Homo sapiens: one gene and its partners. The protein of the gene in region 1 interacts with the protein of each later gene in a pairwise test. Each region holds a gene or a part of one and is shown on either strand. Other genes may lie near its edges.

The links. Proteins that work in one complex are often made in the same cells at the same time.
Region 2: the proteins of SPSB1 (region 1) and PAK1 interact in binary tests that used the Homo sapiens proteins (3 or more experiments, as listed by UniProt).
Region 3: the proteins of SPSB1 (region 1) and TRIM55 interact in a two-hybrid assay, tested with the Homo sapiens proteins (one large-scale study listed by BioGRID and IntAct).
Region 4: the proteins of SPSB1 (region 1) and PECAM1 interact in binary tests that used the Homo sapiens proteins (3 or more experiments, as listed by UniProt).

What each region holds. Positions count from the first base shown.
Region 1 is NC_000001.11:9,295,894-9,299,393, forward strand, and holds part of SPSB1 (SPRY domain-containing SOCS box protein 1), read left to right. Parts: intron 1-3,500. UniProt on the Homo sapiens protein: Substrate recognition component of a SCF-like ECS (Elongin BC-CUL2/5-SOCS-box protein) E3 ubiquitin-protein ligase complex which mediates the ubiquitination and subsequent proteasomal degradation of target proteins.
Region 2 is NC_000011.10:77,355,595-77,359,094, forward strand, and holds part of PAK1 (serine/threonine-protein kinase PAK 1), read right to left. Parts: intron 3,424-3,500; coding exon 3,304-3,423; intron 249-3,303; coding exon 74-248; intron 1-73. UniProt on the Homo sapiens protein: Protein kinase involved in intracellular signaling pathways downstream of integrins and receptor-type kinases that plays an important role in cytoskeleton dynamics, in cell adhesion, migration, proliferation, apoptosis, mitosis, and in vesicle-mediated transport processes.
Region 3 is NC_000008.11:66,130,129-66,133,628, reverse strand, and holds part of TRIM55 (tripartite motif-containing protein 55), read right to left. Parts: intron 1-3,500. UniProt on the Homo sapiens protein: E3 ubiquitin ligase that plays an important role in regulating cardiac development and contractility, muscle growth, metabolism, and fiber-type differentiation.
Region 4 is NC_000017.11:64,363,361-64,366,860, reverse strand, and holds part of PECAM1 (platelet endothelial cell adhesion molecule precursor), read left to right. Parts: intron 1-3,463; coding exon 3,464-3,500. UniProt on the Homo sapiens protein: Cell adhesion molecule which is required for leukocyte transendothelial migration (TEM) under most inflammatory conditions.

The sequences.
Region 1 (3,500 bases):
TCAGACGACAGCACAAGGTCAGGTACAGGTGTGCCTCAGTCTGCCCAGGGGTGTGTTATCCTCTCCCCAGCCCTCAACACTAGATCAGTGAAATCCAGACTCTAAGGGACTTCGATTTTGGACTTTCAGTGAGTGCTCTCCCCTCCCCCAGTTATCTGATAACATCTCCCCCAGTCTAAAGTTCCACTGGCAGCCAGGTGCCCGGCTCTGTGCTACAGAGTGCTTTATGGACGTGACTTTGTTTGAATCCTAAGCATAATAATAGCGGGAAATGGTTTCATGGTTTCACGGTGCGTGCGAGTACTGGCTCTGATCTGAGTCCTTGACGCATTGACTCATGGGCTTCCTGAGGACCCTGAGAAGTGGGTTTTGCCTCCATGTCCATTCTGCTGAGGATTGCAGGTAACTTGGCTAAGGTCTCGCGGCAAGGGAATGGTGGAGCCAAAACTCGAATCCAGACTTGGCACCCAAGCCCTTCACCAGTAAGTTTGTCACCTCCACCACCTGAGCCTTTTCTTCAAGAAGCATGGGCTCATTTTTTTAGTGAAATTTTTTGTTATTATGGAAAATGTCAAACACACCAAAGTTAGAGGCAGAGTATAATGAGCGATCAGGTTTCCTCACCTCGCATGCACACACATACACATACTCACATATGCACATGCATACTTATGCTCACAGAAGATGTGCACATGTGTACACACACATACATATGCACACACATATATGCACACATACACACACACGCTGGATTATTTTGAAGCAAATACAAGATGTCAGGTCATCTGTAGCTTCTTCCTAAGAAGCATTTAAAGGAAGCATCACATCTCAAAGAGGTTGACTGTTACTCTATGCGGGGCAAGAGTCGGGAGATGTACGTCCTTTCTGACTTGGGCTTGAGGCTCCTTCCTTGCTTGGACAAAGGGAGGATGGCAAAACCCAACAGCACATTGGGGGATCTGTCCTGCTGCCAACCCCCTGAAACCTTTGGGAAGCTGCCTGTTTGCTTTGTGTTTTAAAAGTTCTGTTCATTGCCCAACGTTAAAAATAAATGAGTCCAGTGGTCATGAGACAGACCACATCAACAACAGGCTTAGGCTCTCGGGGCCTTTCTTGGAGATGGGGAAGAGAATCCGCCAAGGCACAGCCCAGCCTTGCCTGCCATTGAGGTCCAGACCTTGTGCAATGCAGGCATGGGATTTGTGGCAGGGCTGGGTGTCAGGAGATGTGACTGTGAGAATGGTTTGTCAACAAGCTCTGAATCTGACCTGAAGCTTAGCCTGACCCTCTTGAGTTTACTGCGTAGGCGATGGGTGGAGGAATCCAAGAACCTCTGCCACCCTTGGGCGTCTCTTGGAAAACTAGGGAGGCATTGGGTGATTTGAGCACAAGATGAAGAAAATATCAGGATGCAAACTCCACACTTGAGAAATGACTGCTGAGTAGGAATATAGGATTCCAGGGTTGGAAAAACCTACCTGTGACAAGGGCTTGACGGGTGCCCCAGTTGTGAACACACCTTGCCAGACAGTCAGAGTGTGGCCAATCTGGTCACACCCTTTCCAAGGTCAGAGTGAGGAGCTGCACTCCACACCAAGAGAACCACTTGAGTTTTCTAATTTATACAAGCAGACACCAAGGGAGCATGTGTGGGAGTGGATATTAGGATGTGGAACGAACATGAAGTTGGATCTGGCCGAATTTATGGATATGGGCCCACTAAGCGGAGATTCTGCACTTGATGTTGTAGCTCAGGGGGTTAAGAAGAGATCTGTTTGGTTGGCTGACTGGAACATGGATCAAAGGATGACCCACTGTGAGTAAGTTGGAGTTTCTGGGTCTCCTTTGGTTTAATGTAGAGTTAGGGATTCATAGGCTTAGGTTTCATGTAGAGTTAGGGATTCAAAGGCTTAGGGACATTGGAATGCTGGAGTGGATTTGTCTCTTAAAAGCTACTCACCCACACTGGGAAGGTTCAGAAGACAGATCTTTCACGCATACGTTGAGAAATAGATTTGTGAGGGGGCCCCAGCATCCCTGAAGAGCTCCGTGATCCAGCCCTTACAGTGGGAGCCGCAGTCACTCAAATGGAAAACTTAAATGCAACGGGAGTAATTGCATTTGGAGTGCAGCGGCCAAGTGGCAGTACTCAGCCATCCAAGGCAAGGTGAGTGTGGTTACCTAATGGACGGCAGAGGCAAAGCTGCCGTCAGAATAGTCTGACTTGTGTGGATCTATGGCATTGGATAGTTAATCATGGTGTTCCTAGAAGTGAAATAGACAGGAAACCCGTGAAATTCTTACTTGATCTTATAAGTTACTTGATTCTTTTAAGTTTTCTGTATAAGCAGAAACTTACAGGTCAAATGAAAAAAAGTCTAACTTGAATAATTAAAACAGAAAAATAATTAAAACAGAAAATCACAGCCCTCAATCAACTTCCCAGACTTAACCCAGTTTACACAACTAAGCCCCCATGAATGAATGAATGAGTGAATGAATGAATGAGTGAACGAATGAATGAATAAGTGAACGAATGAATGAATAAGTGAATGAATAAGTGAATGAATGAATGAATGAATTGGAAGCTGGATCCCTTTGAAGAAGGACCTCAGTACACTAGAGAAAGTTTATGCTATTAATTTTTCTCCTAGCCTTCCCCAAAGGGACCTGTGACCTTTTACCAGAGTGAATATGTATTGAGGAAAGGGAAATAATTAGATTGTTCGGGGATAACTGGTTACTGAACTGATACTGATTCCAGGAAACCAAAAATATCACTCACTGTGGCCCACTAGTCAGAGAAGGGGCTTATGGAGGTCAGGTGATCAATGGAGTTTTAGCTTAGGTTTGACTCCTGGTGGCTCCCGTGGATCCCTGAACCCATCCTGGGGTTATTTCCTGGTTCCAGATTCAAAGTTGACATACTTAGCACCTGGCAGAATCCACACACTGGTTCCCTGCCTTGTGCGGTGAGGGCTGTTATGGTGGGAAAGGCCAAGTGGAAACCATTAGCGTTGCCTCTGCCTGGGAAAATAGTACATCAAAAGCAACATTGCATCCCTGGGGTGGGGCTGCCGAGATTAGCACCACCATCAAGGACTTGGAGGAGGCGGGGGTGGTGACCCCCACCACATCCCCATTCAACTCTCCGATTTGGCCTGTGCAGAAGACAGATGGACTTTAGAAACTGATAGTGGATTATTGTAAACTTAACCAAGTGGTGACTGCAAAATTCACACATCTCTGGTCCCTGCTACTGCATGCAGCTGTTGATCTGACGAATGCCCTTCTCTTTATACCTGTCCATAAGGCCCAGCAGAAGCAGTTTGCATCCAGCTGGTAAGGCCGGCAATGCCCCTTGGCGGTCTGGGCTGATGGGTATATCAGCTCTCCAGCCCTATGTCACAGTTTAGTTCACAGTCATCTTGATCACCTTTCCCTTCCACAGATATCATACTGGGGCTGGGCACGGTGGCTCACTCCTGTAATCCTAGCAC
Region 2 (3,500 bases), on another chromosome or scaffold:
CTACGACCAGCAAATCTCTGTGCTTGACCAGTCATAAAACGAAGAAAGGTTCAGAAAGCTACAAATTCCTTACGTAATTTCTCCAAGATCTCCTCATCAGACATTTTAGGCTTCTTCTTCTGCTTCTCAGTATTCCGGGTCAAAGCATCTGGTGGAGTGGTGTTATTTTCAGTAGGTGAAATGGGAGATGTAGCCACGTCCCGAGTTGGAGTGACAGGAAGTGGTTCAATCACAGACCGTGTGTATACCTGCATTATTAGTGCAAAATTTTGGCAAGACCAGCCTTTGTTAGCATAGGGGAACCTCTCCTAGATGTGAGGTTAGAACATCCACAGAGCAAACCCCAATAAACTCATCCTTTCTCTTATGTCAAAATCTATATTACTCCTCCTCTGTGCCCAGGCCCACCCATTCTGGGTAAAATGGCCTTCCTTACTCTCACTGTAAACAAAAGAAGTGAGAGTCTCAGCACTAAAGATATTCAATAGAGGCTAGACAACTATCAAAAGAAATTAGTTAAAGACAATTCTATTAGATAAGAATCCCCTTCATCTGTAATATTTTATGCTTCCCCAAGCTAAAAGAAATATCCTGTATTCCCCAAGCTAAAAGAAATATTCTGTAACAAAAGAAATTAGTTGAAGACAATTCTATTAGGTAAGAATCCCCTTCATTTGTAATATTTTATGCTTCCCCAAGTTAAAAGACATATCCTGTAGTAATGCAAATAGCACTTTGCATTACTAGTACAACACCAACTTCTATTGAGTTACTCCCTCCTTACATCCTGAACCCTTGCAGGGAAGGAACTACTTTTGTTCTTCATCAAGAGGTAGTAGAGTGTGATGATTTAGAACATGGACTCTGGAACCTGACTGCCTGAACTTAAATCCCAACTCTTATTATTCTTACCTTCTGCATGACTTTGGGCAGGTTACTTAACTTCTCTGTGTTTCAGTTTCCTCATCTATAAAATGGTGATAATAATGATAACTATCTTTTGGGGTTGCTGTAGGAGTAAACTGATTAATATGTGAGGTAATCAGACTCATCCCCAGCAGACATTAAGCACTCAAATTTTACCTTTTAAAAATATTAAATGTCCTATTCATTCATTTACATAACAAACATTTACTGAGAATCTATTTGTTGCCTCACCCTGTACAAAATGCTGCCCCAACCTCTCATTCTTATAAAGGAGGTGAGAAAATCATAACTACAAGGCAGAAAGTGATACATGTTATAAAGAAATAAGCAAGCTATATACTACTGAGGTTCAGAAGTGATCATAAATTATACTTCCTTTCCCCAGGAGATGCTTCAAGGTATTTAACAGATTTTATCATAAAAATATCACAATTATCTTTTGCATAGTCCATAAACAGTATAAGGACAGGGAATGTGGGTCATTCATCCGTGAGTTCCTCCATCTAACCACTTACTAAAAGAAAGCAAGCATTCAGGTAAATATTTGATGGAATAAATAAACAAACAGGATCCTGCAACTGGATCCTGAAGGACGGATAGGTTTCTACAAAGATAGAGGATCATTTATCTATGATGATCATTTATCTGCGATGATGCAAAGCCATTGGCAACAGTGGGACTCAAACCCATGGCTCCACAGAGACTAAAGCCAACTACATCCTGCACCTTGGACTGCTTGACCATGCTACCTTTTGACTGGACAGGCTTTTAATAGGTGGAAATGGGAGAGAACATTCCAGTAGTGGGAACAGCAATAAGCCAAGACGCTGAGATCAGAGGCAATGGCTTCCTTCCTGATTACTACTCTAGCATAATGATTTCTCAATTTTCTATTCTTGTACCTGTAGACAAACTATATCCCAGGCACCTAAACCTGTACTTCCATGCCTTGTCCTCTTTTGCCTGTCCTGATATATCTCTTTGAAGACAGAAACCTTGCCTTTTCCTTCTTTAATAGTCTCCTTCTCTGGCTCCTAGCACAGGTTTGTACACACAAAAATACCACTGTGCTATGGTGGAAAACAACCTGGAGTTGGGGTTAATTACCTGCTTTCAAATCCTGGCTCTTTTGTTTACTAAGAGACTGGGCAGATCAATTCACCTCTCCAAATCTCAGCTGCTTCTTCTATAAATTAGGAATTACCAATACCTTTTTAGAAAGAAATGCTATGAAGATCAATTAATTAATTAATTCAATATTTACTGTCCTCTGATATTTACCCACCTCTGCAGGTGCCAAGAACTATGTTAAGCACTAGAAATACATACATATGGATTTCCTCTACTTTTTGAGGTGTTCATGGTTTAGTGGGGAAAAAAATGTTTTAAATGAACATGTCTACAAACCAAAAAAAACCATATCAGTGTTAACGACTCTCCAATTTTGAAGCGCATTTTCCCTTGAGGTAACTTTGTGACCTACAGAGATGATTCCACAGATTCTGTTTGTAAGTTCTCATCCTAATAGGTCATATAATTCCTTTGAATTTCCTCCACAGCATCTCCAATAGTCATTCAACCAATTTCTGTTTGAACACCTCCCTGAATGCTGTATTCCAGAGGTAGCCCTTTTTTTTTTCTTTCATGATCACAGAAGTGCTAGATGGTTCCTTCATTATGGAGCTCTCATCTTAGTAAAAGACCTAAACAAAGAAACACTAGTAGAGTATCATCTGATGGTAGGTCAGTGCTCAGTGATGCCAAATTAAGTAAAAGGCACAGGGACTAGATGTTTCAAAGCAAGGTTAGAGGGACCATGGCTATTCTCAGAGATGCAGGAACCTCAAAGGAAGTTAAATAGAAATCACTGCCAACATCCGGCATCAAAATGCACTCCTGATGCCCAGCATATTAATAGCACTAATGTATTTATATATTCTCTTGGGTCTTTCAATATTATCAATAATGCTCTAAGAGGCTGAACACTGCACATTTAACAGAGAAGAAAAGATCTGTAGCAAGACAATTTGTTGCTTCCCTGGAGACTGGAATAATTTATGTTAGTCCTGCACTAAGTAGCATCAATCCTATATATCTTCCTGTCCTATCTGTGGAGAACCGAGACTGGACTGGTATAAACATCAATTACCTAGGACACTTTGGGACTATCTGCAAACCAATGATAAATAAACACATGATTTTTTGTCTTTAATCATACAGAAAGTACCTTTAGTCAAGGTAGTTCAGTGATTTCACCAGCTCCAAAATCTAAGGACGCCTACCAGAATATTAAACTTCTAGGTATCAGCACCAACTCCTCCCTCTCCCCACTTACTCTAATAAATCACAAAACTGGCCAGGTCCCCAAAGACTCACAGATTTTGTGTGCTCTGGGCGTGGAGCAATCACTGGTGGTGGGGTAGCATCATCATCATCATCATCCTCATCTTCTGAAACTGGTGGCACTGCAGGAGTCTCAGACACAGCCTTCACATTCTGTGCAAAGAAGAAAAGCAAGATGCATCTGGTCCAGCTGCCATGGAACTTAACTATCAGGATCACCAAACCTCCCA
Region 3 (3,500 bases), on another chromosome or scaffold:
TTTCAAAATTTTAGAATCTGACTGTTGCAAAAGGAATTTCTGTCTGGTCTTGCAGCAATATGCTTTCCATGAAGTCTATGACCTTCTGATTTGACCACATTATTTGGAACTCAAATAAGGAAGTCAACTCCACAATTGAGAAAATTATCCTCCTCTCAGGTCTGTCTGTTTCCTCCACTAGAATATCAGCTCCATAAGGGCAGGGGCCATGATGAGTCTTTTTTTTTTTTTGCTGCATCTCCAGTACTCGGAACAGTGCCTTGCACAGAGGCAGTGGCTCCATAAATATTTGTTGCACAAATGAGTGAGACAATGAAAGGGAATTTGACCTATTAAATGGACAGTATTCCCTGTGCTCTAGTGTAACACCACCCAGCTGGAGAAGGCATGGCAAATATGGGGAAAGCCTGGGATCACCTGGCACTCCTGAGTGGCAGAGGAAGAGACCAGACCACATCCTGATTACTCCTTTAATAAATGACAGTGCCCTCTGGGGTTGGGACTGGCAAGTTGGTCTCTGCCTGGTCAAAGGCTTCTTCCCCTCTAAACCCTTCCCTCGTAGGTATCTCCACCTTATTATTAATGTGGGCTAAGCAAGAGTGGGCAGCTTGGGTCCCACATGCTGTTCTGATATCAACAGCTGTGACCAGAGATTGCGTCATAGAGCACAGGTCTATGCAGTATATGCAAATATTGAAAATGTGAAAACAGCCATAAGGCTCTACATTTAGTTTTGTTTGTGATTCAATTTATTTATTTTTTTCATGGTGCTGTATACACTGAGAACAATTTCCCATATTCCTCATTGGGTTTTTCTTATTTAGGTTGTAGCCCAGCCCCAGAGGCACCACTTACTCATAGATGAGCATATAATGAAACCTCTGTACAACTTCAAACATGTAACTGACTTGGGACCGATTTGGCATGTAAAAGAATGACATAAATACATGTTTATGAGGTGAGAGCAGCCAAGCTCACAGCTGTGGTCAGGGCCCAGTGCTAAATGTTGGCTGTGGCCCCTCACCGTTCAGTGTAGGCTAGACTGAGAAGTATGTAGCCTGCTGTCTCTGGTCTCTGAGGTTCCCGGGGCCACCCTAGAGTTTCCTGAGGAGTGGGCATCTGGTCTTGGTGAGGCAATTGAAGTAGTAACTTTGTAGTCAAACTGATATTTTTTTTGAGATGGAGTTTTGCTTGTCGCCCAGGCTGGAGTGCAATGGCTCAATCTCAGCTCACCGCAACCTCCACCTTCCCGGGTTCAAGCATTTCTCTTGCCTCAGTCTCCCAAGTTGCTGGGATTACAGGTGCCTGCCACCACACCTGGCTAATTTTTTTGTATTTTTAGTACAGATGGAGTTTCACCATGTTGGTCAGGCTGGTCTCAAACTCCTGACCTCAGGTGATCTGTCCACCTCAGCCTCCCAAAGTGCTGGGATTATAGGCGTGAGCCACTGTGCCTGCCCAAACTGATCTTAAAGCTTCATTTCAGCTCAGCTTCTCCATGTAGTGGCTATGTGGCCTTAGACAAGTTACTTAACCTCTTCTGGTCTCAGTTTTTACTCGTATCAAATATCAGATTAAGGGTCTTCTAATTAAATGTGGCAGAATGAACACAAGCATGTATTTATTTATGTATTTATATATGTATGTATGTATTTATGTATTTATTCTGCTGAAATCCCAGTGAAATGAGGATAAGGAAATAAAAGGGCATAAATCAATAAGGACAAAAAGTGAGCACAGATGACAGCAGATGAGAGATGTCAACCAAATGTTGGAAATTAGGAACATCTGGATGAAGGGACATGACCTACTTGAGTTGCATCTTAGTTCTGTTACATTCCTGCAGTGAGAAGCTTACAATAAGCAAGCTGACTTGAGCTATGGAACCCTGGAAAGGCTCTGGAACTGCAGGAGCCAGTAGTCCTGAAGGTGGAAGTAGGCGGTGACAGACTGGGAGAGGCTGAAAAGAGGAGGACTTTGTGCATGTTTTAAGAGATTACTTGAGGATGTGCTCCATAGAAATAAGAGAGTAAGCCACCAAACAAGGAGACCTGGAATCCAGGGAGCAAGGGGTTCAACCCAGGGGGAGAGTAAAAGAATTCCCAAGTAGAGGTAAAGCCCAGCCATGTGAGGGCTCAGTCCTAATTGTCTACAGTGGAAAGTCAATAGAAAATGTCTAAAATTGAAAAATCAAAGAATAGGAGCATACCAGTAGTATGCACATGTCATTGGTGATAAATAGCAGAAAAACAGCTAAAAGAATTAAAAGTGGTTGACTCTGGGGAATGAGGCTTGGGGGTGGGTAAAGAGAGAACAGAGTGGAGACTGCATTTCTCTTCAGAGGCCCAGTAGTAATGAATTCTAAAAGTTGTGTATGTTGATTACTTTAAGGCACTAAAAGCTTTAATAGGGTAGCAGTAATTATAATAATCAACACCTCACCGGATTATTGTGAGAATTAAAGAATTGCACATGATTCATGTGTTAGGCACCCTGAACAGTGTCTGGCATGCAGCACATAGTAGTTTTACTTGTTATATTTTAAAGTTAATTATTATTATATTAATTATTAATATTAGCCAAAATAGTACCTTCTCTTACCATCTCCCACTCCCAACTGTGGCTAGTCTGGCACCATGCAGAATTCTGGATAAGAATGCCAAGTTTTGGCTGGGCGCAGTGGCTCATGCCTGTAATCCTAGCACTTTGGGAAGCCGAGGCGGGTGGATCAAGAGGTCAGGAGATCGAGACTATCCTGGCTAACACGGTGAAACCCCATCTCTACTAAAAATACAAAAAAATTAGCTGGGCGTGGTGGCAGGTGCCTGTAGTCCCAGCTACTTGGGAGGCTGAGACAGGAGAATGGCGTGAACCTGGGAGGCAGAGCTTGTAGTGAGCCAAGATCACGCCACTGCACTCCAGCCTGGGAAACAAAGCAAAACTCCATCTCAAAAAAAAAAAAAAAAAAAGAATGCTAGGTTTTGTGGAGACTTACAGTCTCCAGCCTTTCTGGAGGAGGTCAGAGTTGACTGACAACATCCCAGTCTGTGATTGGTCACCCCCCCCGACCCCCTTCCAATAGCCACAGCTGAACTCTTTTCATTCTGTATATCCAAGGTCATTCCAGTGTTACCTAATGTACCCTGAGGCTCAAGATTCTGGTCTAGTAAGGCTGTCTGCCCCCAGGGGACAACTGCGTTTCCTCCCAGACATGTGGCCAAGTGCTCTGTGCAACTTGTGGTTTTGCTACCAAGTAAAATTGTCCCACAGGAAAGTCTCAAGTTCAAGAAAAAACAGCATAACAAAATCACAGAAAATCACAAAAGCATCCCTAGTTCACTCAACTATGAGCTTTATTGTTGGAAATTTGGTTCATTGCTTTTACGCAATTTACTTCCCAGGCCTGGGTACTATTTTTGGCAGCTGCACCAAGCCAACTTCATAGCTAAGGTGAAGATGTGTTTTGTAGTTTTACCAATACTGCAAGTTTTAACATCTCT
Region 4 (3,500 bases), on another chromosome or scaffold:
TCTCCTAATGCTATCCCTCCCCCCTCCCCCCACCCCACTACAGTCCCCAGAGTGTGATGTTCCCCTTCCTGTGTCCATGTGTTCTCATTGTTCAATTCCCACCTATGAGTGAGAAGATGCGGTGTTTGGTTTTTTGTCCTTGCTATAGTTTACTGAGAATGATGATTTCCAATTTCATCCATGTCCCTACAAAGGACATGAACTCATCGTTTTTTATGGCTGCATAGTATTCCATGGTGTATATGTGCCACATTTTCTTAATCTGGTCTATCATTGTTGGACATTTGGATTGGTTCCAAGTCTTTGCTATTGTGAATAGTGCCACAATAAACATACGTGTGCATGTGTCTTTATAGCAGCATGATTTATAGTCCTTTGGGTATATACCCAGTAATGGGATGGCTGGGTCAAATGGTATTTCTAGTTCTAGATCCCTGAGGAATCGCCACACTGACTTCCACAATGGTTGAACTAGTTTACAGTCCCACCAACAGTGTAAAAGTGTTCCTGTTTCTCCACATCCTCTCCAGCACCTGTTGTTTCCTGACTTTTTAATGATCGCCATTCTAACTGGTGTGAGATGGTATCTCATAGCGGTTTTGATTTGCATTTCTCTGATGGCCAGTGATGGTGAGCATTTTTTCATGTGTTTTTTGGCTGTATAAATGTCTTCTTTTGAGAAGTGTCTGTTCATGTCCTTCGCCCACTTTTTGATGGGGTTGTTTGTTTTTTTCTTGTAAATTTGTTTGAGTTCATTGTAGATTCTGGATATTAGCCCTTTGTCAGATGAGTAGGTTGCAAAAATTTTCTCCCATTTTGTAGGTTGCCTGTTCACTCTGATGGTAGTTTCTTTTGCTGTGCAGAAACTCTTTAGTTTAATTAGAGCCCATTTGTCAATTTTGGCTTTTGTTGCCATTGCTTTTGGTGTTTTAGACATGAAGTCCTTGCCCATGCCTATGTCCTGAATGGTAATGCCTAGGTTTTCTTCTAGGGTTTTTATGGTTTTAGGTCTAATGTTTAAGTCTTTAATCCATCTTGAATTAATTTTTGTATAAGGTGTAAGGAAGGGATCCAGTTTCAGCTTTCTACATGTGGCTAGCCAGTTTTCCCAGCACCATTTATTAAATAGGGAATCCTTTCCCCATTGCTTGTTTTTCTCAGGTTTGTCAAAGATCAGATAGTTGTTGATATGCGGCGTTATTCCTGAGGGCTCTGTTCCGTTCCATTGATCTATATCTCTGTTTTGGTACCAGTACCATGCTGTTTTGGTTACTGTAGCCTTGTAGTATAGTTTGAAGTCAGGTTGCGTGATGTCTCCAGCTTTGTTCTTTTGGCTTAGGATTGACTTGGTGATGCGGGCTCTTTTTTGGTTCCATATGAACTTTAAAGTAGTTTTTTCCAATTCTGTGAAGAAAGTCATTGGTAGCTTGATGGGGATGGCATTGAATCTATAAATTACCTTGGGCAGTATGGCCATTTTCACGATATTGATTCTTCCTACCCATGACCATGGAATGTTCTTCCATTTGTTTGTATCCTCTTTTATTTCATTGAGCAGTGGTTTGTAGTTTTCCTTGAAGAGGTCCTTCATGTCCCTTGTAAGTTGGATTCCTAGGTGTTTTATTCTCTTTGAAGCAATTGTGAATGGGAGTTCACTCATGATTTGGCTCTCTGTTTGTCTGTTATTGGTGTATAAGAATGCTTGTGATTTTTGTACATTGATTTTGTATCCTGAGACTTTGCTGAAGTTGCTTATCAGCTTAAGGAGATTTTGGGCTGAGACAATGGGGTTTTCTAGATATCCAATCATGTCATCTGCAAACAGGGACAATTTGACTTCCTCTTTTCCTAATTGAATACCCTTTATTTCCTTCTCCTGCCTAATTGCCCTGGCCAGAACTTCCAACACTATGTTGAATAGGAGTGGTGAGAGAAGGCATCCCTGTCTTGTGCCAGTTTTCAAAGGGAATGCTTCCAGTTTTTGCCCATTCAGTATGATATTGGCTGTGGGTTTGTCATAGATAGCTCTTATTATTTTGAGATACGTCCCATCAATACCTAATTTATTGAGAGTTTTTATCATGAAGGGTTGTTGAATTTTGTCAAAGGCCTTTTCTGCGTCTATTGAGATAATCATGTGGTTTTTGTCTTTGGTTCTGTTTATATGCTGGATTACATTTATTGATTTGTGTATATTGAACCAGCCTTGCATCCCAGGGATGAAGCCCACTTGATCATGGTGGATAAGCTTTTTGATGTGCTGCTGGATTTGGTTTGCCAGTATTTTATTGAGGATTTTTGCATCAATGTTCATCAAGGATATTGGTCTAAAATTCTCTTTTTTGGTTGTATCTCTGCCCGGCTTTGGTATCAGGATGATGCTGGCCTCATCATCCTGAGGGAGGATTCCCTCTTTTTCTATTGACTGGAATAGTTTCAGAAGGAATGGTACCAGTTCCTCCTTGTACCTCTGGTAGAATTCGGCTGTGAATCCATCTGGTCCTGGACTCTTTTTGGTTGGTAAGCTATTGATTATTGCCACAATTTCAGATCCCGTTATTGGTCTATTCAGAGATTCAACTTCTTCCTGGTTTAGTCTTGGGAGAGTGTGTGTGTTGAGGAATTTATCCATTTCTCCTAGATTTTCTAGTTTATTTGCTTAGAGGTGTTTGTAGTATTCTCTGATGGTAGTTTGTATTTCTGTGGGATCGGTGATGATATCCCCTTTATCATTTTTTATTGCGTGTATTTGATTCTTCTCTCTTTTTTTCTTTATTAGGCTTGCTAGCGGTCTATCAATTTTGTTGATCCTTTCAAAAAACCAGCTCCTGGATTCATTAATTTTTTGAAGGGTTTTTTGTGTCTCTATTTCCTTCAGTTCTGCTCTGATTTTAGTTATTTCTTGCCTTCTGCTAGCTTAAGGAGTTTCATTCTTGTTGCCCAGGCTGGAGTGCAGTGGAGCAATCTCGGCTCACTGCAATCTCTGTCTCCTGGGTTCAAGGGATTCTCTTGCCTCAGCCTCCCAAGTATCTGGGATTACAGGCGCCCACCACCATGCTGGCTAATTTTATATTTTTAGTAGAGATGGGGTTTCACCATGTTGCCCAGGCTGGTCTCAACTCCTGACCTCAGGTGATCCACCCACCTCTGCCTCCCAAAGTGCTGGGATTACAGGCATGAGCCACCACACCTGGCCACAAGTTGCAAAACTTTTCTAATCCTTGTCATTGAAATAAATTGGATTAACAAGAAAGGAAAACCTGCCATTGGAATCCTAGGCAAAGAATGAACCCTAGCTCCTTACTGGGGTGATCGTTAGGTACATGAGAAGCAAAGGAAAACTTTTTGCTGGAAGTTGGAAGTTGGTTCTGCCAAGAGCACCTGAGCCAAGGGCCTCTCCAGGAAGGGTCTTTAGGGTGGTGGCCAGACACATCTCGCTCCATTCCCACTCACTGTTTTTCAGAACTATTTTCCAAGCCCGAACTGGAATCTTCCTTCAC